2 separate regions of the Homo sapiens genome follow, and region 2 is linked to region 1. The links come from fine-mapping of genetic effects on gene expression. A gene starts in region 1. The other region holds a variant in brackets. All regions are shown on one strand. Distances are between the middles of the regions.

Region 1 (12,400 bases):
GACCTTGAAGCAAACCCCCCTGCTTCAAGTTGTCTCATCATTGCTTTGAGTTGTCCCACCTTTCCAGATCGAACCAATGTTCATCTTACATATGTTGATTTGTGTCTCATGTCTCCCTAAAAAGCATAAAACCAACCTGTGCTCTGACCACCCTGCCACCCTGGGCACAGGTCATCAGGACCTCCTGAGGCCGTGTCACAGGCATGCATCCCTAACTTTGGTAAAATAAACTTCCTAAATTGACTGAGACCTGTCTCAGATTTTTGGGTTTCACATTTTGGCAACCACAAAGGGATTCTGAGTAGAGGTGCCCCTGACCTTTGACAAATATCCTATCAGTGCTTGCTAGCAGCTTGAGCTATCTTTATGGTTCAAACTAATATGACAAGTTGCTGAGTTCTGGAAGTCCCCCATCCAGGGAATCCCTCATTTCCCAAAATTCGCTCCAGATCCAAAGTTTATTTTTCTAAACAACTCTACTCTTTTTTTGGAGTTTTTCTTGCTTCCAACAAGGAAGGCAAGTTTTCCTGCTTCCATGAAAGTTCCTTTCTGGAGTTTGAACTCGCTCCCAACAGGGAAGACAAGTTTGAGGGTTTTTTTCCTGCTTCTAAGATGATAGAGAGCAGTCTTCAGCCTAAGACCCATCCCTAGGTAAGTAACTGAATTGGGGTTTGTCTTGGCTAAAGGTAAAATTAACAACCAGCTGGTCTTAATTTTTCCTTATCATTAGAGTGTCCAGTAACCATACAAGTTGTGTGATCATTTGTTTGTTTTGCTTAACTGGTATTTTTTTTTGTTGTTGTTTCTTTCTGTTTTTGTTGTTTTGGTCCTTTTCCTATTGGGTTTGGCCAATTCTGACTTGATCAAATCCAAAGGAAAGTTCCAAATTATGTGGAACAAGGCCTCTGAAGTGGCTAAATTCCCACCAGAAAAGGGGTGGTGGGGGAAGAAAAAACAGCCAGCAAAAGGAAAAAAGGGGGGGAAGATTTTTGATTTTGACTACTTAAGGGGATTTATTTACATAACAAGGCCACCTTTTTGCTAGCCAGGCCAAACTGAAAGAGAAAGGATTGTCACCCCAACTGCAGTTCCATAGCTAAGGTTCTGTCTTCTTTTTTCCATGACAGCCTGGGTTTGGTTCCTAAATCAAGACCTTTCTGGTTTGATACTTGGTACTTCTGAAATAGCAGATATTTGTCCTAGCTGAAATATGTTGATGAGATCTTAAAAATTTTTTAAAAAGAAACTCAAATGGTTAAAAGTCATCTTAATTAAAAGCTAACATCCAATGTGTGTGTGTGTGTGTGTGTGTGTGTGTGTGTGTGTGTGTGTGTGTGTGTGTGTATTTAAAAGGGCTTCATGATTTTTCTTTTTTCTCTCTCCTAGGACCTTGTGTTTTTTGGGCAAAAGTTTTTTTTCTTTTCAGTTGACTGAATGCTATTTTCTTCATATAGTTCTGCTGTCTCTCCTTTCCCTTGAACGCTCTGCTGCATGAGGGACCTAAAATAGTTTATAATAGCCTGAGGTTCCTTAAAGAAAATGGAGAAGGCACCAGACTCCCTTTTGTGGAGAAAATTGTTTTTCCTTGTGTATCCCCAAGAGTGTAAACACACAAGTTCATGTCAGCTCCTAAACTGTTTGCTTTTGTATTGTGTTACCTGATTTTTTTGTTTATTAATTATTGCAACAGAAGCTACTCCTGCATTTTTAAGGAAGAGTATATTTTAGACACTTAGAAATATTTTTTTAATGTTTTTTAAGTACACTGTAAAAGCATCCATGTGGTCGAGCCTCATAATAATTCTCCCTTTTTGCAGACCCAGGATTCAGTGTGGCCTCTTCCCAGAGCTCAGAGATCCAGTTAAAAGATAGGTAGTCACTATCTAAATAAAATTGGTCTCCTGTGATCCAACCACCTCCCACCAGGCCCCAACTCCAACATTGGGGATTACAATTCAACATATTTGGGTGAGGACACAGATCCAAACCATATCACAGGCCAAGGCCAAGGCCGAGGCACGGTTGAGAAGGCTCAGAGGCACCTGACCAAAGTTTGTAACAGTTTTGATTGACAATACCAAATTACCTTACACTGATGTATACAAGATGCCCAGTTTTTCATTTTTACCAATCACCTATGTTTCCAAACGTGTTTATCTTTGTCAACCAGATATGCAAAATTAAGGTGTCTCCTTACAAACTTTCTGATAGTAAATATCAAAAGTTTGGGTGCATCTTATTTTCTAAGACTATGTCCTAAGTAATTCTGGATATGGCTAATGGGCAAGGTGTTCATCACTGTATTGTTTATAATAGTGAAAAACTCGAAGAAGCCTAAATATGCCTTAGGGGATTTGTTAAATAAATTATAGCACATACACAGGATGAAATCATTTACAGCCATTAAAAATCATGCATACATGCATAAGGCCAGGCTCAGTGGTTCACATCCATAATCCCAGCACTTTTGGGAGACTGAGGCAGGAGGACTGCTCAAGCATAGGAGTTCAAGAGCAGCCTGAGCAATGCAGCAAGACCCTCTCTCTACAAATAAAAAATTTAAAAAAATTATCTGGGCATGGTGACATGTACCTGTGATTCCAGCTACTCAAGAGGCTGAGGTGGGAGAATCTCTTGAGGCCAGGAGGTCAAGGCTGCAGTGAGCAGTGATTGTACCACTGCACTCCAGCCTGGGCAACAAAGCACAATCTCGTCTCAAAAAAAAAAAAAAATCAAGCATAAAATTTTGTGAAATGCTTATTTTTGAGTTTATGGAGTCCCCTCATTTTGGTCCCACCTGAAATCTTACACAAATTACTGCTCATAAATTTTTGCATTAAGTTTTAAATTATTCAAGTAATTGGCATGTGTGAAAAAGTATGAAGAAAAAATTGAAACACCAACATTCCCTTTCCCCAGTCATTCCCCTTTCTAGTAATAACTGCAGCCAGTTAGGTGAAGACTAATAGACTTTTTACTAAAATGTATCTAGTGTCACTGACCCTAGATAACATCCCTGCTTCCTTTTTAAAACAGATAGACTAAAACTGGAATCTTGTCCTTTAAATTTCTTCTGTAGCTGGTCACTATAGAATGTTTGTGCCCCCATCCATAGTTCGTATGTTGAAATCCTAACCCCCTAGTGTGACTGCATTAGGAGGTGGGGCCTTTGGGAGGTGATTAGGTCATGAGAGTAGGGCCCTCAGCAATGGGATTAGTGCCCTTATAAGACCAGAGAGGTCTGCAGCAACTTCCCCAACATGAGGACACAATGAGAAGACAGAAGTCTATAGCCAGGAAGCAGGCCCCCACCAGACGCTGAATTGCACCTTGATCTTGAACTTCTAGCCTCGAAAACTGTGAGAAATAAGGCATTTCTGTTGTAGCAGTTTGAACTAAGGCACAAGCGACATTGGTTAAAACTTACCTAAATATACTAGGTTATGTGAGGAACATGGAGCCATGATACTGAAAGGCTAGCACACCGGCGGGCCAGCAGGTGCTTAATGAAAGGGATACGTTTGCGTCTGTCCTGTTTACTTGCTTTGTCCTTCGCTGGGGCTTTCACTGTGCCACATCTCACTGTAGGGATGCTTTCTGTGCTAAGCTTGTTTCAGTATTCAAACCTTCATTTTGTAAGAACATGACAGAGCACCTGCCATGGCATTCACGCAGGTAGGGCTGGAGGCAGCCACCGACGTTTGTTAATTGCAGAGTTTTAACTCAAGGGGGACAGATGATCTCAGGACAGAATGACAAGCTGAGTGACAGCAGGAGGGACGTCACCGTACAATTCTCTCCACTTTTCTGTAAGTTTGAAAATCCTCACAGAACACCCAGAGGCACACAGTGTCCTGAAGTGGAAACGGCCAGGACAGTGTCCTTTCTCTTTGTTGGGCTGCAATTTCTGGACTTCTGTACAACTCTGACCAGCTGCCTGTCCCCTCCCTTCCCAGGGTGAGGTAGGAGCCACTATGGCAGGTCGGGGTCAGGGAGAAACAAACGGGGGATCTGCGTGGAGTCGGCCTCCCCCGGCTCCCCGGGGCGTCGGGATGCTGGGTGGGGGGCCCCACTGTCAAGAACCAGTTTAGTGCGACTGGGAAATCTGGACACTTGCTGGTTCTAGGGAGAGGAAGGTGGAATTAGGAATTCCCTTGGGATTGGGAGCGTCAGGAAAATATCCTTTTTGTTTTAAGAGGTGTGTATGTAAAGTCTGTGGGACAACGGGAAGGGATGTCTTTTGACTAATTACCTAAACCAAAATTGGAGCAACTATGATAACAGTTCAATGCTTTAAGACAAAGTGGGGGGTGTGCGGGCAAGCACTCCCTCATCTTGGCCGAAATTTTTCTGAAGAAACCCGCTAAGTCTCAATCAGCAGCATCAGGACTGACAGGAAGAAGCAGCCGCCACCCGCGCCCCAACCCTGCCCCGCCTCGGCGAGGTCAGACCCTCACGCACAGTTCCCTGCCTCCCACCACTACCTCCGGCCTTCTCAGCCCTGTCCACGGCTCCTGCGGTGGGCTCGGCCTTCGATGTCAGGGACCTCCCCGCCATTTCCTCTCAGCTCGCCAGCGAGGGTGCCTCGGGAGGGAGCCTCCAGTGGTGATTGGAGCAACCGCCGCTGGGGGCAGGACTCCAGGCAGCGCGCCTGCGCAATGCACTCCTGCGCGCGCCTGGAGATGTGAGGTAATTCTCCGGCAGGCCTGCGTGGCACTAGTGCGCATGCGTAAAGGCGCGAGGGCTACAAACGCGGCGGGAAGCCCGCCAGGGCCACGTGCGGCCGTCCAGGCTTGCGATTGGCCCGCTGCCGGGTGCCCCCGCGCATGTGCGCTGGCTTCCGAGGGGACCGGCCCTGGTTCTGGAGGCCCTCCCCACCAACGAGCAGTACGCATGTGTAGCGCCGAAGCTTCCTGTGAAGTGTGCGTGTCTGACGGATGACGACTCCACAAGGCGCTGTGGCCCTGGCAGCCTCATGAGGTTGCGGCTCTGCGGGACCACACCGCCGCGGGAGTGCACGGGCCCCAGCGAGTGAAATCTGCGGCAGCCCCCGCTGGGCCCGCTGTTCCTGCGCGCGCAGAGGAGCGTAGCCTGCCCCTAGGCCGCGTTCCCGTGAGCTCCATGCCCACAGTGGCCGAGGCCGGCCACAAGCCCACGGTCCCTTCTGCACGGTCCCTGCCGCGCTGGGGCCACCGTGGAGGCCCGGAGGGCCCTGGGAGGAGGGAGGAGGAGCAGAGGCTTTCGGGAGAACCCAGCCCTTCACCGGCCAGGGGAGGCCGCGATGCATCGCGACTGGTTGTGAAGAGCCAGGGGAAGAACTTTACCGTGCAGGTGAGTGGGAGACATCAGAACACCTGCCTGTCCTAAATACGAAGCCTCGAATCCTAACCTATAAAAGGTTACCTTAGGGTTTAGGGTTAGGGCTACAGATTAGAGCTAGGGATTAAGGTTAGAGTTGGGGTTGGGGTTAGGGTTTAGGGGTTAGAAGTTAGTTTTGGGGTTAGGAGTGGGGTTAGAATTAGGGTTTGGGGTTAGTGTTAGGGGTAGGGGAAGGATTGGGGTAGGGTTAGGGTTGGGCTAGGGTCGGGGTAGGGGTAGGGTTTTACGGTTAGGGTCAGGGTTTTAGTGTTGGGGTTAGGGTATTGGGGTTAGGGTTTGGGGGCTAGGGGATTAGGGTCAGGGGTGGGGGTTAGGGTTTGGGATTTGGCTAAGGTTTGTAAGGGTTAGGGTTTTAGGGTAGGGGATAGGGGTTAGGGTTACGTGTTGGGGTTGGGATTAGGGTTAGGGGTTACAGTTTAGGGTAAGGGGTTAGAGTTAAGGGTTAGGGTTAGCATTAGGAGTTACAGTTGGGTTAAGGGTTAGGGGTTAGGCTTAGTGTTGTTAGGGTTAGGGTTAGGGTTAGCATTAGGAGTTACAGTTGGGTTAAGGGTTGCAGGTTAGGCTTAGTGTTGTTAGGGTTAGCTTCAGGGTTCGGTGTCAGGGTTTGGGGTGGGGTAGTGGTAGGTTTAGGGGTAGCGTTGTGTGTTAGGATTTGTGGTTACGGTTCGGGCTAGGGTTTTAGGGGTAGGCATAGGTTCGAGTTTGGGTTTGGGTGTTAGGTTTATGGCTAGCATTAGGGTAGGGGTTAGGTGTAGGAGTAGGGGTTGAGGTTATGAGTTGAGGTTAGGGTTAGGGGTCAGGGGTCCGGTCAAGGGTTGGTGTTGGATTTAGGGATTAGGGCTAGAATTAGGGGTTAGGGTTAGGGGTTTGTGTCGGGGTTGGGTTGGAGGCTTGGGTTCAGGGTCAAGTTTAGGGTTGGGGCTAGGGCTTAGGGTTATGGGTTAGTGTTAGCAGTTAGGGTTAAGGTTTAGGCTTAGGGTTTAGTGCTTGAGGTGGGGGTTAGGTGTTAGGGGTTAGGGTTAAGGGTTAGTGTTTTGCGTTAGTGGTTAGGGTTAAGGGTTATGGTTAAGGGTCAGCGTTAGGGTCAGGGGTTAGGGGTAGGGGTTGTGCTTAGTTTTAGGGTTAGGGTTCCTGGACGGATGGTTTTCCTGCTTGGGAATGTTCCTGGGCTGTGAGATCCACTCTTCTGGGCAGGTGGTTAGCACCTAACGTTTTCCCCTTACTTCCCCCCAAATTCTTAAGTCCTTTGGTCCATTTCATTACTTCTTTTGGGGAGGGCCTGATTCCTCAGGGCCTCAGTGGCAGAACCAGCCTGAGGTCACCTCCCTGTCCATGGGTTACCACGGCCCCTGGGCAGGCATGGGGAGCTGGGGTGGCTTGGGTTCCTGGCCTTGGCACCTCCCTTTGGGCGGCTCTGGAGTGTGGCTGGGCTGTTGGTACAGGAGCCACAGGCCACTGCCTTTTTGGCTGAGGGGACCCTAACATCCTGGAGCAGGTGGGGCAGGGCCCATGGTCTCCTCTAGGTGGGAGGTGGGAGGCTGAGGCGGCGTGGGCAGGCAGGTGGATGGCGAGGCAGCATGGGCAGGACGGTGGATGGCGGGTCCACAGGGGCAGCCAGCAGCTCCTGCACCCACTGGGGCTCCAAGACTGTGGGCAAGGGAGGAAGGGGGAGCCCAGGCCGGAGGATCCTGGGGGACGGTGCGGCCCGGGGGCCAGATGTGGTCACCGAGCCCAGCCAGGCCTAGGGCCGCAGCAGCCCCAGGGCACTGAGGGCGCCACCCAGCCCGACACAGAGGCACAGGCCGCCCGTGGGTCCAGCGCCCGAAGTCCACGTACAGTAGCTGTAGATGCCGAGCCGGTCCTGTTGCCTCCGGGAACCCAGTCCTCCTCGTCCTCCAGGCCGCGTTCCCCGGGTCCCGCGGCCCTTCTCCAGCCTGAGCCCGCCGCCCCGGCCGCAGCCACGCGCAGGGAGGAGCCCGGGGCACCATAGCACAGCGCCGGCCTCACACACACCCTCGAGGCCCCTCTCGAGCCCCCGCGGAGCCCTCCGCGGCCGCACGCAGAGGAAGGCTGCCTCCTGTAGCAGAGCCCAGCCATTCGCGGGTGCCCAGTTCATCTTCATGGGGCTAAACCTGCGGGAAGAGAGGGAAAGGGCCCTTAGTTTCCATGGAGATCGGGTGCCCAGAGGCGGAGGGCTCAAGGCTGGAGAGCAGAGGGACCCCCATCTTTTGTGGGATCAGGGTGCCCCCAGCATCTTGGAGGCCCACTGAGGCCTGGGGGGGCGCGGTTTAACCTCTAGCATCAGGGACTTAGGCCTGGGGGAGGCGCTGGGAAGTGGCAGGTGGGGCAGGAGGGGCAGGAGGGTTCTGCACCTGAAGGTTGTGCACCTGGATTGGGGGTGTAGAAGCGGGGCAGGAGCGTTCAGGCCTCTGGGGGCGTCCAGGCCCGGGCGGGGGAGCAAGCCTGGGGGAGGGAGCTCTGCACGCGTTGCTGGGATGTGGGGGGCGGGGGGAGGCGGCATGGGGGGAGGGGCGTTGTGTTTGGAGGACGCGGTAGCCGGGACCAAGAGCTGGCTCAGATCAGGGTCTGGAACGGGGACGGGCCGTGCCTGGGCCTGGTCCCCACCTTTGGGGCCAAAGCCTGGGTGCGGGCCTTGCGGATGCTGCGGAGGACAAGCGGCTGCTGACACCGTGCGGACTCCGCCCCAGCAGACCCGTGCCCCAGGGACAGTCCCTCCCGCGCGCGCCCAGCGCTCAATGCCGTCCCCGGCCGCCTAGTTCAGCAGCTGGCTGGGGGCGGGACGGGGTCGAGTTGCGGGGCCGCGTCCAGACACGGCTGTGCGGGCGACAGCTGCATCCCCTCCCCGCGCCGCCCCTCGCTCCCGGCCCCGTACCCGCCCCAGCCTCCCGGCCTTACCCGCCACGGGCCTCGGTTGGAACCGCGCGCTGGAGTATCCGTCCCTGAGGCCGCGGCCGAGCGGGAAGGAGCGGGCGGGCGGCGGCGCGGACCCTCAGCCGGAGCGCGGAGCCGCGGCGCCTGGGTTTTGCGCGAGGCCTCCGCCCTGGGATTGGGGCGGGCAGTCGCGGAGGCGCATCCCTGGTGAGCCGGTGGGAGGGGAAAAGGATGTCGCGTCCCCCATCCTTGCGGCCTCCCGTCCTCCGTCACCAGCCCCCTCCGTCTCCTGCATCACAAGGCCCCGTCCCCGCGGTCCCCCGCGACCCCCGCACCCGGCTCCGCTCCACCCGCCGTGCTTCCTGCCCCTCCACACCCTCGTCCCCACCCGGGCCCATCCCCCTGTGAGCCCTGGTGCCCTGGGATGAGGGCCGAGGTCCTGAGCGGAGAGGGTGCTTGTACCAGCCCCATGGTGGCTCGAGCCCACCCCGCGGCCCCTCCCGTGGCAGGTGCGGTTTCTCCACCGGTTGTCAGCTGCGGGGCCGGGCGGAGACCTCCTCAACCTCCGGCCTTGTTTCAGGGAGGATGGGGTCGACCCTTGCGATCCCCAGAGGCCCCCCATGGCTCCTTCTGGGCTGGCTGTCTTCCTCCTGTGGGTTCTGATGCCACCTGGGCCGACGGCGTCTTCTCAGCCCAGGGCGGCCGCGCCTCCGGTGAGTTTCAGCTGAGGGCGCGCGGCCAGCTCCGAGCCTGGCTCCGGGTGCAGCACCGGCCTGGGACCTCTGCTGTCCCGTGTAGGGGTGCCCTGCAAATATGTGATGAATAAGTGAAGAAATACGTTTTATCTTCTAACTTGCCGGATGTTAGAAGGAAACCAAGCTTATGCTTCTCATTTATAGCTACCGTTAAGGATTGGACAGAAGCTTAGCTTTTTGGGTGAGACGGACAACAGTGTTTTTAGAACCTTTGGCAAGGAAGAGCTGGAAAGAACATGTATTTGAAAGTGACTGACAGGTCTTCTGGCCCTAGGGGGCCACCTGAGCAGGTGCACCCAGCTTCCCTCCAAGACAGAAAATAAATTAACAAGGAGAGCAGGAAGGGCCCCGGCAGACTCCAGACGGGAGGGGGTGCTGCCCATCAGGCAGAAGGAGCTTGGAAGGGAGGGGCCGTGGCCATGGGACGTGGAGGTGGGAGCGGGGGTCATCATAGGTCTGCACACTCGGGTTGAGTCCCCCTTCCCCATCACACACAGGACAGCCAGCAGTGAGCTGCTTACCCCAAGGAGTCAAGGGGGTTCTTGGGCAACCCCTGGTGCTGGAGCCGGCAGTGGACAGCACCGCAGCCAGACCTTGCTTATTTTTGGCTCATGAGGAACATCTGTGACCGTTCCCTCCCCTGGCCCTGGGAGGGGATGTGTGACCTCCACTCAAGACAGCCATGCGGCTCCTCCGGCTGCGGGCGGGGAGGGCATGTTTCCCAGCACAGGCCCAGGACTGCCAGCTGAGAGGCTGGGAGGGGCCCCTCACCCCTAGACTTTGCATGTGAAGCCAAGCGTGGAGCCTCACAGGGAATCTGAGATGGGAGCCAGTGAGATGGGGGCAGGACCCAGAGGGGAGAAGAGGTCCTGGGGATGCTGTGGATCTGGATCCAGCGTGCGGGAGCTGAGGTTCCGGAGTGAAACACTGCCTTTCATGGAAGCACGTCTTCCTGTCACCCATCGGCTTCATTTTAAAGGATGAAAATGTATCAGACATTCAAGGAGAGCTGCATCACATAAAAGAAAGACCAGGCAAAGAAACGGAAAATAAATGGATTGAGAAATGTGAATGACTCCAATCATTCCAATCATTGGAATGAATGGATTGGATAAAACTCCAATCCATAGACTCAGATTAGGGAGATATATTTATATAATAAGAACAGGAAACTGTGAAGATGAAATAAGACAAAAAAGACACTTTTGAGATTAAAAAATTACTGCAAAAAAAAAAAAAAAAAACAACAGAAGGATGGAATTGTATATTTAAGGAAATGTTTCTGGCAAAAAGGCAGCAAATATGAAAGAAAAGGGGATAGACCCAGGGGATCCATTTTGGGCTCTAACATCTAACAGTTGTTCCAAGGCCGAGAACACAGAATGGGAAAAGGAAGGGGGAGGCGGTGCTCCAGCTGATTTTATGATTCCAGAAGCCTTCTATCTTAAGATGTATAGGATGTATCTTAGGGTGTATAAGAGAAGCGCAAGAGAAACATTTAGGCTGTTTTATGTTTGAGTAGAGACATGAAAGTTTTAGATAAAGCAGCAGCACAATGAGTCCAGCGGCACATCAGAAAGCAAATCACCATGATCAGGTCAGGTTCAGGGTGGTTTTATGTCATAACATATGTCAGTGTGCTTTACCTATTAGTGGACCAAAGGCAAAAAATACGGTTTTCTACAGAGAAAGACAAAGCATTTGATTTCAATCAACATTCGTTTGTGGTGAAACATGTTGAGAAAACTCATCATAGAAGTGAAATGTTTTCTTTGATAAAGGCTAATCTCAGAAGACATACGTAGTGGAGAGCTTTTAAATGTATTTTTAAAAATACGAACCAATGAGAAGATTGCCTACTTTCACCGCTTCTGTTTAACACAGCATTGGCAGAGCTGCCACCAAGAAGAACACAGCACGTTGAAGGCACGGTGGCTCCTGAAGCTGCAGCCCTGAGACCTGATTGTACCATGGAAGGTGGGGTGGCTCCTGCAGCTGTAGCCCTGAGACCTGATTCCACCACAAGTGCTGCAGCTGGCAGAGGCCACAGGACATAGGCATAGCTGGTGAAACCTGCAACTGAGGGTGTCGGGGGCTCCTGGGAGAGCCTCCGTCCCCGCTAAGGAGAGGGGCTGCGTAGAACCTGTGTGCTATTGTCCTTTCCCCCTTTTTCCTGCTGGGAGTGGGACTTGGTGCCGAGGGTGGCTCCTGACATCGGAAGACCCCAGGATGCTGGGTCAGCGGCTAGGCGGGTGGAGGGTGGGGTTGTCCCCGGCACACGGCGGTGCTGCTCTGCCACTCTGCACTGCTGGGTGTCTCACATCTCATCCCTGTATTAAGCAGGTACTCCCTAGACTTGCAGCCAGATGTATACCTTAGATTTAAAAGATGGTAGAATTTCTCTACCAGAACAAAAAATAGCTTTAAAAAATATAAGATAAAAAGCCATTCATAGTCTGGCACGATGGCTCATGCCTGTAATCCTAGCACTTTGGGAGGCCGAGTCGGGCAGATCACCTGAGGCCAGGAGTTCGAGACCAGACTGGTCAAAATGGTGAAACCCCGTCTCTACTAAAATTACAAAAATTAGCTAGTCATGGTGGTACATGCCTGTAATCCCAGCTACACGGGAGGCTGAGGCACGAGAATCACTTGAACCCAGGAGGTGGAGGTTGCAGTGAGCTGAGATTGAGATTGCGCCACTGCACTCCAGCCTGGGTGACAGAGCAAGACTCCTTCTCCAAAAAAAAAAAAAAAAAAAAAAGCCATTCACCACAGTCCGCAATGTAAAAGACCTCTGTGGAGAACATCAAAAAGTTATTAAAGAATATAAAAGAAAATCTGCATAAATGGAGGATGCACAGGATATTGTGAAGGTGACCGTTTGCCACAAATTGATCCATAAATTTAATGAAATTACAATAAAAATCTTTGCATAATTTTTAAAAGACTGTTATGAACTGAACAGTGTCTCCCTCAAATTCATGCATTGAATTCCCAACCCCTAATACTGCAGGGGTGGGTGCATTTGGAAATAGGACCTTAAAGAGGTGACTAAGGTTAAATGAGGTGAGGTGAGCTTGATGTCGTTAACAAGAGGAACTCAGGACCCAGACACCCACTGTGGGATGGCTCTGTGAAGACATAGGGAGAAGATGGTGTCTACAAGCCAAGAAGAGAGGATGCAGAAGAAACCAACCCTGCCAAACTGTGAGAAAACAAATTTTTGTTGTTTAAGCCACCCTGTCTGTGGCACTTTGTTATGATAGTAACAAAATAGCACAGAACCCAAAAGTTTCTAAAGTCTATATGGAAAAATAAATGCCTAAAATAGCTATTAATAAAATAATTTTGAAAAAGAAGATCAAAGAAGA
Region 2 (12,400 bases), 92 kb before region 1:
GGATAAAGAAAATGTGGCACATATACACCATGGAATATTATGCAGCCAGAAAAAAGGATGAATTCATGTCCTTTGCAGGGACGTGGATGAAGCTGGAAAACATCATTCTCAGCAAACTAACACTGGAACAGAAAACCAAACACTGCATGTTCTCACTCATAAGTGGGAGTTGAACAATGAGAACACATGGACACGGGGAGGGGAACATCACACACTGGGGCCTGTCAGGGGGTGGGGGGCTAGGGAAGGGATAGCATGAGGAGAAACACCTAAGGTAGATGACGGGTTGATGGGTGCAGCAAACCACCACGACACGTGTATACCTATGTAACAAACCTGCACATTCTGCACAGGTACCCCAGAACTTAAAGAATAATTTAAAAAAATTTGCAAGAGTTTATGTAGCATTGGTTTTATTTCTTCTTAAATGTTGGAAGAACTCACTAGTAAAGCTCTCTAGGCTTGGAGTTTCCTCTTTAGTGAGGTTTTTTTTTTCCAGATTTAATTTTTTAAAATAAATAGTTGAAGTATTCAGATTCTCTATTTCCTATTAGATCTGCTTTGTTCAGTCCTTTTAAAAAATGAATTGGTACATTTAATCTAAATTTTCAAGTTTTTCCATATAAATTTGTTAATAGTATCTTTCTACTAGCCTTAATGTCTACAAAATCTGTAGTCATGTGCATTTTTCAATCCTGATAGTGGCAATTTGTGTCTTCTCTCCTTTTTTTTTTTTTTTTTCGAGACCAAGGTCTCACTGTGTTGCCCACACCAGACTCAAACTCCTGGGCTCTAGCGATCCTCCCTCACAGCCCCCCGCACAGCTGGGACTCTGGGCACTCTGCTGTTCTTGACCGGTGCTGCTGGCGGCTTCATCTCATTAGTCTTTCCAAGGCACGTGGAGCTTGTGCCTTTGGTTTTCTTGATTTTTCTTGGTGAACATCTGCCTTCTAATTCGTTTATTTCTGTTCTCATCTTTGTGATTTCCTTCTGCTTATTCTAGCTTTTTTATATGGACATTCAGATTGTTGATATTCAGCATTTTTTCTTTTTTAATGCATATATTTTAGGTTATAACTTTCCCTTTTAGCATGGCTTTGGCTGCATTCCAAGAGTTTTGATATGTTGTGATTTTGTTTTAATAGGTTTATGGGGGTATAATTAGCATATAATAAACTTCACATATTTAAAGAATACATTGCAATAAGTTTTGACATGCACGTACACCCCTGAAAGGATCGCAGCGTCTATGAGAATGGACGCATCCATCGCCCCCAACGTTTTTCATGTATGTTTGAACATCTGTCCTGTCCCTTCCTGTGTCCTGCCCCTCAGGTGATAAAGTTCAGCTTTCTGACACTGTAGACTAGTTTGCACTATTTTAATTTTATGTAAATGGATTATATAGTATGTACTCTTTTTTCGGGGATGAGAGTCTGGCTTTTTTCGCTCAGCACAATTACTTGCGATTCATCCATGTGGTGAGAAACCATAGTTCATTTCTTCCTCTTGGCAAATAGCGCTCCATTGTGCTGTTTACCTGTTCACTTGATGGACATTTGCATTGCTTAAAGCTTCCAGCTATTGCAAAAAAAGCTGCTACAAATATTCATGTACCAGTCGTCATATGGACTCGTGCTTTCATTTCTCTTGGCTACCTAGGAATGGAACGATTGTAAGGTACGTGCAAGTTTAACATTCTACCAACCTTTCTGGAGTGGCTGCATCATGTTACATCTCCCCAGTAATCTCTGAGTGTTCTGCTTCCTCCACAAGGTTCCAACACTCGGTTGATAACGTTTGACATTCTAACAGGTATATGGTGCTGTGTCCTTGTGGTTTTAATTTGCATTTACCTAAGGACTAATGATATTGAACACCTTTTCATGTGTTTATTTGCCATCTGTATATGTACTCTGTTGAAGTGTCTGTTCAACATTTTTGCTCATGCTTTATTGGGTTGTTTGAGTTTTGAGCATTCTCATGAGCTCCCCTGGGGTGGTCCTTTCCAACTGTGGCCCTGGTACTGAGGGGTCCTCCCCACAGCAGGAACACAGGAAGAAAGTGTTCAATCAAGTCCTGCAGGATGGCCTCAGCCAGGTCCAGATGTGGGCTTGGGGGCCAGGCCACACTAAGCACCTTCCTCCCTCTGGGCTGTCTCCCCACAAGACTCACAGAGCTGAGCCAGGTGTCCCATTGGGCACACAGGGGACCCCACCCTGACAGCGGCCCCCATTGTACTTTGGGCCATTGCTGATCTTTGCTCTTGGTGGGCTGGCGGCTCAGATGTTGCCCAAGAGGCTGTGGGGCAGGAGCAAAGTCTGGGAGACTGGGAGGCTCTGGCTCTTAGGAAGTATCAAAGGCACCCAGGCCTGTGGGAAGAGGTGTCCTGGAGAGGAAAATGGCAGAGGGAGGTGTGTCTGCCCCAGCCGTGTGGGGCTGGAGAGTTGGGGAGAGAATGCATTTGCTATGACAATTCAGTGTTAAGAGTCCACGTGCCAGCAGAGCAGCCCCCAGCCTTGGCGCTACTGACCTTGGGGCTGGGTTGTTCTCTGCGTGGGGCCATCCTGTGCATCACAGGTGCTGAGCAGCATCCCTGGCCTCCACCCACCAGGCACCAGTGGCAGCCCCCTTCCAGTTGTGACAATAAAAAAATGTCTCCAGACGTCACCAAATGTTTCCTGGGGGCAAAATCAGCACAGTTGGAACTTCTGGGTTAGCAGCAGATTGGATAGGATGATGGTGAGTGACTGCCTAAACCATCACCAGCCTGTGTGAGCTGACAAAGGAGGGCTCCTTACTTATGAGTTTATTTGTGTAAAGTCTTAAAAAATTAAAGATATTAGCTTAGTAATTATACACATAATGAATTAACTTTACTGAAAAGAATAGTATGTAGAAAAAATGAGAATTTTAGCAAAATTATTAGACGGTGATGAATGTGGTGTCTCCCTCCTGAGATCTGGTTGTTGAGTGCGGCGTCTCCCTCCTGAGATCTAGTCGTTGAGTGTGGCGTCTCCCTCCTGAGGTCTGGTCAGTTGAGTGTGGCATCTCCCTCCTGAGATCTGGTCAGTTGAAAGTGTGGCGTCTCCGTCCTGAGATCTGGTCATTGAGTGTGGCGTCTCCCTCCTGAGATCTGGTCAGTTGAGTGTGGCGTCTCCCTCCTGAGGTCTGGTCAGTTGAGTGTGGCGTCTCCCTCCTGAGGTCTGGTCAGTTGAGTGTGGCGTCTCCCTCCTGAGATCTGGTCAGTTGAGTGTGGCGTCTCCCTCCTGAGATCTGGTCAGTTGAGTGTGGCGTCTCCCTCCTGAGGTCTGGTCAGTTGAGTGTGGCGTCTCCCTCCTGAGATCTGGTCGTTGAGTGTGGCGTCTCCCTTCTGAGATCTGGTCAGTTGAAAGTGTGGCGTCTCCCTCCTGAGATCTGGTCAGTGGAAAGTGTGGCGTCTCCCTCCTGAGATCTGGTCAGTTGAAAGTGTGGCGTCTCCCTCCTGAGATCTGGTCAGTGGAAAGTGTGGCGTCTCCCTCCTGAGATCTGGTCGTTGAGTGTGGCGTCTCCCTCCTGAGATCTGGTCGTTGAGTGTGGCGTCTCCCTCCTGAGATCTGGTCATTGAGTATGGTGTCTCCCTCCTGAGATCTGGTCAGTGGAAAGTGTGGCGTCTCCCTCCTGGGATGTAAGTTGTTGAGTGTGGCGTCTCCGTCCTGAGATGTGTTCAGTTGAGTGTGGCATCTCCCTCCTGAGATTTGGTCATTGAGTGTGGTGTCTCCCCCTCTTTCTTGTTCCTCTTTTGCCATGTGAGGCACCTGCTCCCCCTTCACCTTCCACCATGACTGGAAACTTCCTGAGGCCTCCCCAGAAGCAGATACCACTCTCCTTCCTGTACAGCCTGCAGAACCATGAGCCAATTAAACCTTTTTTTCTTAAAAATTACAGAGTCTCAGGTATTTTTTTATAGCAGTGTGAGAACAGATGAATACAGAGACCCCTCCCAAGGGAACATCCTGTGTCTAATTGTTGGTGGGTGTCTCACCGACCCCAGAGTTGAAGAAGCTCCTTTGCTTAGCTTGTTTCCCATAGGCTGAGCACAGGGTCCCCCAGGGAGTGCCTGGTTGACGGTGGTCAGGTGGCTCAGACCTGCTGAGTCTTGCTGGGGATGGCCCTGCTGCCTGAGGATCCCAAAACGTTGGAAGATGAGGGACTCTCATTGGGCTTTGAGGATCCCCGTAGCCCTAGGACAATTCCAGGTATGTAGCAGGTGCTCCCACATCTTACCACTTAGCTTGGATTTTGAGGTTTAAATGCTACAAATATGGTTACTTATTGTGGGCCATGAAATAACCTTAAATCAGTGTTGCAGTGACCTTTGATACTGAATGTTTTTATAAATCAACATTATTTTTAAAGAAAAGTGGTGTGTTTGATTAGGAAAATCCGGCATAGCTGAAGGTTATAACACATTTGAATAAATTAGAGGAAGTGTTCAAATCTTGGGTTGCTGAAATGCTATTACATATACTGTCATGGAAAATAGATAATCATTGGCCAGAGATTAAAAACATGTGCCGATTGATTGAGTTGAAGGATGTTAGAAGGTTTGGAAAATTAAAGGGGCCAGTTGTCTTCCTGTGATGAAATTAAGAAGCACTTTAAATCAGCCATGGCCACGTCTCTGGTTCTTTTGCAATGACTGTTTTCTCCATGTCTTATTTTCTGCACTTGGTCTCTAAGATAAATTGCTAGGTTTCTCCTGAGCACAATTATCATCTCAGTTCTACCTGTGGGCACTTGCTGTGACCACCTACACTGCTTTACCAATCAGTTGTGGGCCTTTGGCCCAAACAAGGAAGTGAGTCAACCCCCATGGGCTCACAATGCCTCATCTACGTGGCCAGGCCTGCTGAGTGCAGAGTGGGGGTCTGGGCTTCAGCCTGCCAGAAGACTCTTAGTCTCCTCAGACCCTTTGGATGCTCCATCCTTGAAGTCAGGACAGTGTCTCCCTGGACACTGCAGGCCACCTCAGCGTCTGGATGGGCACATAAGAATTGTGATGAAAATATTTACCTTCCCGAGTTCACATCAACAGCCAGACATGCTGACAGTGTGCATCCCGGTGTGGTGTGATGAGAATGTCACGTGCCTCTGTGTCTTTCCGCCCCAAAACCCGTAACTTTCATCATGAGTAAAAAAATAATCAGGCGAATCCCAGTCAAGGGAATACCTGGAAGATACAAAATACCTGGCCAATATTCTCCAAAACTACCAAGTTCATCAAAAGCAAGGAAAGTCTGAGAAAATGCTGCAGTCAAGAGAAGCCTAAGGAAACTCCTAACTGTGATGTGGACAGAAGGACGTTAGGGGAACACGGAGGAACTGGGAATCAGCCATGGATTGCAGTTGACAGTATAGGATCGATACTGGCACATTAATGTAACACATGCTAATGGGAGATGTCAGTAACGGGAAACTGGGTGGGGGCAAATTTAAAACTATTCTAAAAGATTAAGTCTATTTAAATAAAATTCCATCCTCCTGCAGGGAGGGTTGCACATGGCCCTTGTGTGCCCAGGGCAGAGGTGCTGGGGAGAAGCCACCAGCTCTGGAATTGATCTCCCCAGGTCCATCACCCAGAAGCCCTGCAGGTGCCCTGGCCTGTCTCTGCTCGAGCCTGGGGGCGGTTCCCATGGGGACCCCTTTCTACCTCCGAGTGGGGTAATTGCTCCCTGAGAGCCGCTCCTGGGGACACGTGGGCCTCTGTAGCAACCTCAGCATCCACCCCGAGGGGACAGACTTCACTCAAAGGTCAGCATCAAACACAGGAGACACTGACTGGGAAGAGACGGGCGTCAGCCTTGAGGCACCATCATGTCCATGGACATGTGGGCTCCCATTTAGACAGGAGCTGGCCTAGCCACACTCCTCACTCAGTGAGTGGCTGCAACCCTCCATGCCTGCCTTCCACATGGATGACCCACCTAATTTTCCTTTCAATGTTTTTGAAAAGTCAGATCTGATTCTACCCTGCCCTGACCTACATTAATGTGGAAAAAATGTTGCTGAAATTGCTTTGCTGTTGTGTTGAGGGTTTCCGTTTGAAACTCTAAGTGCCTGGGAACCTCTGTGGGCCTGCACTGTGCCCTATCTGTGCCCTCGATCAGGTGAGCAAGAAGCCGGAGCCCCGTGGTTTGGCCTTTAAGGCAGATCAGGATCTGTAAGAGGGGCCTGGAAGCTTCCTGTGAATCTGGTGCAAGGCTCCACCTGCCCTTGGTTTCACAGGCAAATGGGGCTCCTGTGATGGAGGATGGATTTCGGGCCTCAGACTGGGCAGCCAGGAGGTCTTTGGGACTGCCTGAGCTGAGGGCTGCCTGGGCTGAGGACTGCCTGGGCTGAGGGACTGCCTGGGCTGGGGGGACTGCCTGGGCTGAGGGCTGCCTGGGCTGAGGACTGCCTGGGCTGGGGGGACTGCCTGGGCTGAGGGCTGCCTGGGCTGGGGGGACTGCCTGGGCTGAGGACTGCCTGGGCTGAGGGACTGCCTGGGCTGGGGGGACTGCCTGGGCTGAGGACTGCCTGGGCTGAGGACTGCCTGGGCTGAGGACTGCAGCTGAAGGCTGCCTGGGTTGAAGACTACCTGGGCTGGGTGCCTCCTGGGCTGGGAAGGAAGTGGGTTTGGCCTTGTTTCCTCTGATGTTGACTAAGCCGCCTCTCCTTGCCCTGGGCTGGGCCTGTCCTGCCCGAGGAGGCTAGGTGGTCAGAGATGGGTGGTGGGAGAGGTATGTGAGGTTGGTTGAGTGGAGGCACTGGATTAGGGGCTGCACCGAGGCTGGGTCTGTGCCTTTCTTT[G/A]ATGTATCCAGTCTCGGACACAGCCTGACACCCCCTGATGGAACAAACCTCCCACCCAGACCAGGAACAGGAATGGCCAGTCCATGCCCGCTTCTGCATGGAGTCTGCCCTCCTGAGGGAGCGGCCTGGGGTGGCTGAGGTAGGGCCGCAGTCATGGTTTCTACTAAGGAGCTGTGGCCAGGTCAACCTACAGCTGAAATCTGACAGCTGAGGTCACCTGGCCAAAAGAGCTGGAGTCTGGCCTGGTGGTAGTTGGAGCCACTCACTGCCCTGATGTCCCCACATGCCTCCCTTTGGAGAGTGCCCCTCACAGCCTCTGCAGGTGAAACCTGTGCTGTCCTGACGCTAACTCTCCATAAAGCCCATGCCTGCTGGGTGGTTTTCCTTCTCCGCGACCCAGAATCTTGTGCCCAGGTCACTGATGTGGTCTCCACCTGCCTCGGGGGCCAAACACACTTGCACACCACGAGCTTCTGTGTGCTGGAATAATGGAGGAAATGTTTAAAATCAAAGCAATGAGAGGCTCTTGCTGCATTTTTGTTATTTACTGTGATGCCAGCCCCGCTGCAGGCCGGCAGGGAGCACTGTCCTCGGGGGTGAGTGACGCTGGGCTTGTTGACTCCCTCGCAGAGTGGAGGGTTAATGCTCTGATTCTCCCTGGGCGCAGGGACCCATGTTAACATCTTAATTATGTGCTTTCTGCAGCAAAGTTGCCAACAGCAAACTTTCCCAGAGAGTCTCAGCAGGACAGCGAACAAGGGGACAGGTCCCAGAGAGTCTCAGCAGGACAGCGAGCAAGCGGACAGGTCGCAGAGCGACTCAGCAGGACAGCGAGCAAGGGGACAGGTCCCAGAGAGTCTCAGCAGGACAGCGAGCAAGCGGACAGGTCCCAGAGAGTCTCAGCAGGACAGCGAGCAAGCGGACAGGTCCCAGAGAGTCTCAGCAGGACAGCGAGCAAGCGGACAGGTCCCAGAGAATCTCAGCAGGACAGCGAGCAAGCGGACAGGTCCCAGAGAGTCTCAGCAGGACAGCGAGCAAGCCGACAGGTCCCAGAGAGTCTCAGCAGGACAGCGAGCAAGCGGACAGGTCCCAGAGTCTCAGCAAGACAGCGAGCAAGGGGACAGGTCCCAGAGAGTCTCAGCAGGACAGCGAGCAAGCGGACAGGTCCCAGAGAGTCTCAGCAGGACAGCGAGCAAGGGGACAGGTCCCAGAGAGTCTCAGCAGGACAGCGAGCAAGCGGACAGGTTCCAGAGAGTCTCAGCAGGACAGCGAGCAAGCCGACAGGTCCCAGAGAGTCTCAGCAGGACAGCGAGCAAGCAGACAGGTCCCAGAGTCTCAGCAAGACAGCGAGCAAGGGGACAGGTCCCAGAGAGTCTCAGCAGGACAGCGAGCAAGCGGACAGGTCCCAGAGAGTGTCAGCAGGACAGCGAGCAAGCGGACAGGTCCCAGAGAGTCTCAGCAGGACAGCGAGCAAGGGGACAGGTCCCAGAGAGTCTCAGCAGGACAGCGAGCAAGCGGACAGGTCCCAGAGAGTGTCAGCAGGACAGCGAGCAAGCGGACAGGTCCCAGAGTCTCAGCAAGACAGCGAGCAAGGGGACAGGTCCCAGAGAGTCTCAGCAGGACAGCGAGCAAGCGGACAGGTCCCAGAGAGTCTCAGCAGGACAGCGAGCAAGGGGACAGGTCCCAGAGAGTCTCAGCAGGACAGCGAGCAAGGGGACAGGTCCCAGAGAGTCTCAGCAGGACAGCGAGCAAGCCGACAGGTCCCAGAGAGTCTCAGCAGGACAGCGAGCAAGCGGACAGGTCCCAGAGAGTCTCAGCAGGACAGCGAGCAAGCCGACAGGTCCCAGAGAGTCTCAGCAGGACAGCGAGCAAGCGGACAGGTCCCAGAGTCTCAGCAAGACAGCGAGCAAGGGGACAGGTCCCAGAGAGTCTCAGCAGGACAGCGAGCAAGCGGACAGGTCCCAGAGAGTGTCAGCAGGACAGCGAGCAAGCGGACAGGTCCCAGAGAGTCTCAGCAGGACAGCGAGCAAGGGGACAGGTCCCAGAGAGTCTCAGCAGGACAGCGAGCAAGCGGACAGGTCCCAGAGAGTGTCAGCAGGACAGCGAGCAAGCGGACAGGTCCCAGAGAGTCTCAGCAGGACAGCGAGCAAGCGGACAGGTCCCAGAGAGTCTCAGCAGGACAGCGAGCAAGCGGACAGGTCCCAGAGCGTCTCAGCAGGACAGCGAGCAAGGGGACAGGTCCCAGAGAGTGTCAGCAGGACAGCGAGCAAGGGGACAGGTCCCAGAGAGTCTCAGCAGGACAGCGAGCAAGGGGACAGGTCCCAGAGAGTCTCAGCAGGACAGCGAGCAAGGGGACAGGTCCCAGAGAGTCTCAGCAGGACAGCGAGCAAGCGGACAGGTCCCAGAGCGTCTCAGCAGGACAGCGAGCAAGGGGACAGGTCCCAGAGAGTGTCAGCAGGACAGCGAGCAAGGGGACAGGTCCCAGAGAGTCTCAGCAGGACAGCGAGCAAGGGGACAGGTCCCAGAGAGTCTCAGCAGGACAGCGAGCAAGGGGACAGGTCCCAGAGAGTCTCAGCAGGACAGCGAGCAAGCCGACAGGTCCCAGAGCGTCTCAGCAGGACAGCGAGCAAGGGGACAGGTCCCAGAGAGTCTCAGCAGGACAGCGAGCAAGCGGACAGGTCCCAGAGAGTCTCAGCAGGACAGCGAGCAAGCGGACAGGTCCCAGAGAGTCTCAGCAGGACAGCGAGCAAGCGGACAGGTCCCAGAGAGTCTCAGCAGGACAGCGAGCAAGCGGACAGGTCCCAGAGAGTCTCAGCAGGACAGCGAGCAAGCGGACAGGTCCCAGAGAGTCTCAGCAGGACAGCGAGCAAGCGGACAGGTCCCAGAGAGTCTCAGCAGGACAGCGAGCAAGGGGACAGGTCCCAGAGAGTCTCAGCAGGACAGCGAGCAAGGGGACAGGTCCCAGAGAGTCTCAGCAGGACAGCGAGCAAGGGGACAGGTCCCAGAGAGTCTCAGCAGGACAGCGAGCAAGCGGACAGGTCCCAGAGAGTCTCAGCAGGACAGCGAGCAAGCCGACAGGTCCCAGAGAGTCTCAGCAGGACAGCAAGCAAGCGGACAGGTCCCAGAGTCTCAGCAAGACAGCGAGCAAGGGGACAGGTCCCAGAGAGTCTCAGCAGGACAGCGAGCAAGCGGACAGGTCCCAGAGAGTCTCAGCAGGACAGCGAGCAAGCGGACAGGTCCCAGAGAGTCTCAGCAGGACAGCGAGCAAGCCGACAGGTCCCAGAGAGTCTCAGCAGGACAGCGAGCAAGCGGACAGGTCCCAGAGTCTCAGCAAGACAGCGAGCAAGGGGACAGGTCCCAGAGAGTGTCAGCAGGACAGCGAGCAAGCGGACAGGTCCCAGAGAGTCTCAGCAGGACAGCGAGCAAGGGGACAGGTCCCAGAGAGTCTCAGCAGGACAGCGAGCAAGCGGACAGGTCCCAGAGAGTGTCAGCAGGACAGCGAGCAAGCGGACAGGTCCCAGAGTCTCAGCAAGACAGCGAGCAAGGGGACAGGTCCCAGAGAGTCTCAGCAGGACAGCGAGCAAGCGGACAGGTCCCAGAGAGTCTCAGCAGGACAGCGAGCAAGGGGACAGGTCCCAGAGAGTCTCAGCAGGACAGCGAGCAAGGGGACAGGTCCCAGAGAGTCTCAGCAGGACAGCGAGCAAGCCGACAGGTCCCAGAGAGTCTCAGCAGGACAGCGAGCAAGCGGACAGGTCCCAGAGTCTCAGCAAGACAGCGAGCAAGGGGACAGGTCCCAGAGAGTGTCAGCAGGACAGCGAGCAAGCGGACAGGTCCCAGAGAGTCTCAGCAGGACAGCGAGCAAGGGGACAGGTCCCAGAGAGTCTCAGCAGGACAGCGAGCAAGCGGACAGGTCCCAGAGAGTGTCAGCAGGACAGCGAGCAAGCGGACAGGTCCCAGAGAGTGTCAGCAGGACAGCGAGCAAGGGGACAGGTCCCAGAGAGTCTCAGCAGGACAGCGAGCAAGCGGACAGGTCCCAGAGAGTGTCAGCAGGACAGCGAGCAAGCGGACAGGTCCCAGAGAGTCTCAGCAGGACAGCGAGCAAGCGGACAGGTCCCAGAGAGTCTCAGCAGGACAGCAAGCAAGCGGACAGGTCCCAGAGCGTCTCAGCAGGACAGCGAGCAAGGGGACAGGTCCCAGAGAGTGTCAGCAGGACAGCGAGCAAGGGGACAGGTCCCAGAGAGTCTCAGCAGGACAGCGAGCAAGGGGACAGGTCCCAGAGAGTCTCAGCAGGACAGCGAGCAAGGGGACAGGTCCCAGAGAGTCTCAGCAGGACAGCGAGCAAGCGGACAGGTCCCAGAGCGTCTCAGCAGGACAGCGAGCAAGGGGACAGGTCCCAGAGAGTGTCAGCAGGACAGCGAGCAAGGGGACAGGTCCCAGAGAGTCTCAGCAGGACAGCGAGCAAGGGGACAGGTCCCAGAGAGTCTCAGCAGGACAGCGAGCAAGGGGACAGGTCCCAGAGAGTCTCAGCAGGACAGCGAGCAAGGGGACAGGTCCCAGAGAGTCTCAGCAGAACAGCGAGCAAGCGGACAGGTCCCAGAGAGTCTCAGCAGGACAGCGAGCAAGCGGACAGGTCCCAGAGAGTCTCAGCAGGACAGCGAGCAAGCGGACAGGTCCCAGAGAGTCTCAGCAGGACAGCGAGCAAGGGGACAGGTCCCAGAGAGTCTCAGCAGGACAGCGAGCAAGGGGACAGGTCCCAGAGAGTCTCAGCAGGACAGCGAGCAAGCCGACAGGTCCCAGAGAGTCTCAGCAGGACAGCGAGCAAGCGGACAGGTCCCAGAGAGTCTCAGCAGGATGGCGAGCAAGAGGACAGGTCCCAGAGAGTCTCAGCAGGACAGCGAGCAAGCGGACAGGTCCCAGAGAGTCTCAGCAGGACGGCGAGCAAGAGGACAGGTCGCCTGGCCACCCTGTTCCTGGGCTGGTGGCACTAGCTGTGCCCAGTGACCCCTGAGGGCCTCGCGCTCCTAATGGCAGCAGACAACCACACAGCGTAGAGGCGTTTGTCCTGCAGGGTTTCTCTGAAGACCTTCCACTCCAGGGCTGCTGCTTTGCTTTTTTCCTCCTTTACCTGATGGCACTTGTAGGAAACATCCTCATGGTCATGGCCATCAGTCTGAATCCAGGCCTCCACACGCCAGTGTACTTCTTTCTCACCAACCTGGCCCTTTTAGACATCGTCTGCACATCCATGGACAACAGCAGAGTGGTGGCTGTGCTGTACACAGTGGTCAGCCCCACCCTGAACCCCTCACCTACTCCCTGCGGAACAAGGACTTATCAGTAGCACTGAGGAGAGTGTTTTCTTGCATCAGGTAAAAGGAAGGGAAGTTTCTAGTGTGAAATGTTCCAGGTGTTAACAAACTAATTTCAACATATGACTTTGAGAATCTCATGCAAGCAGCAAGGAACAAGAAAGTAATTAATGCCACATATTTATAAATAATGTGCTCCCGCACGGGGCTGCCATCATTCAATGTGGAACTCCCAACATCCCAAGGCTGTATGGGTAGGT

Direction of the effects. Alleles are on the strand shown, and positions count from the first base shown. SD is a standard deviation of normalised expression in the study named.
As copies of A replace G in region 2, the expression in thyroid of the gene that starts at base 4,611 in region 1 goes down (moderate effect, 0.46 SD a copy in GTEx).

Evidence for each region.
Region 2: its variant is fine-mapped to the expression of SYCE1 in thyroid (GTEx, PIP 0.93).

The regions. Positions count from the first base shown.
Region 1 is chr10:133,560,973-133,573,372 of GRCh38, forward strand. SYCE1 (synaptonemal complex central element protein 1) reads right to left here and starts at 4,611. Exons shown (of 13, transcript NM_001143764.3): 1 at 4,485-4,611. The coding sequence starts at 4,557. It also overlaps the pseudogene SPRNP1.
Region 2 is chr10:133,469,366-133,481,765 of GRCh38, forward strand. It overlaps SCART1 (scavenger receptor family member expressed on T cells 1), which reads left to right. Exons shown (of 12, transcript NM_001396050.1): 12 at 1-395. It also overlaps the pseudogene OR7M1P. Among named protein-coding and RNA genes, the nearest start is that of SCART1, 22 kb to the left of the region's middle. The variant G/A (reference allele first, on the strand shown) is at 6,832.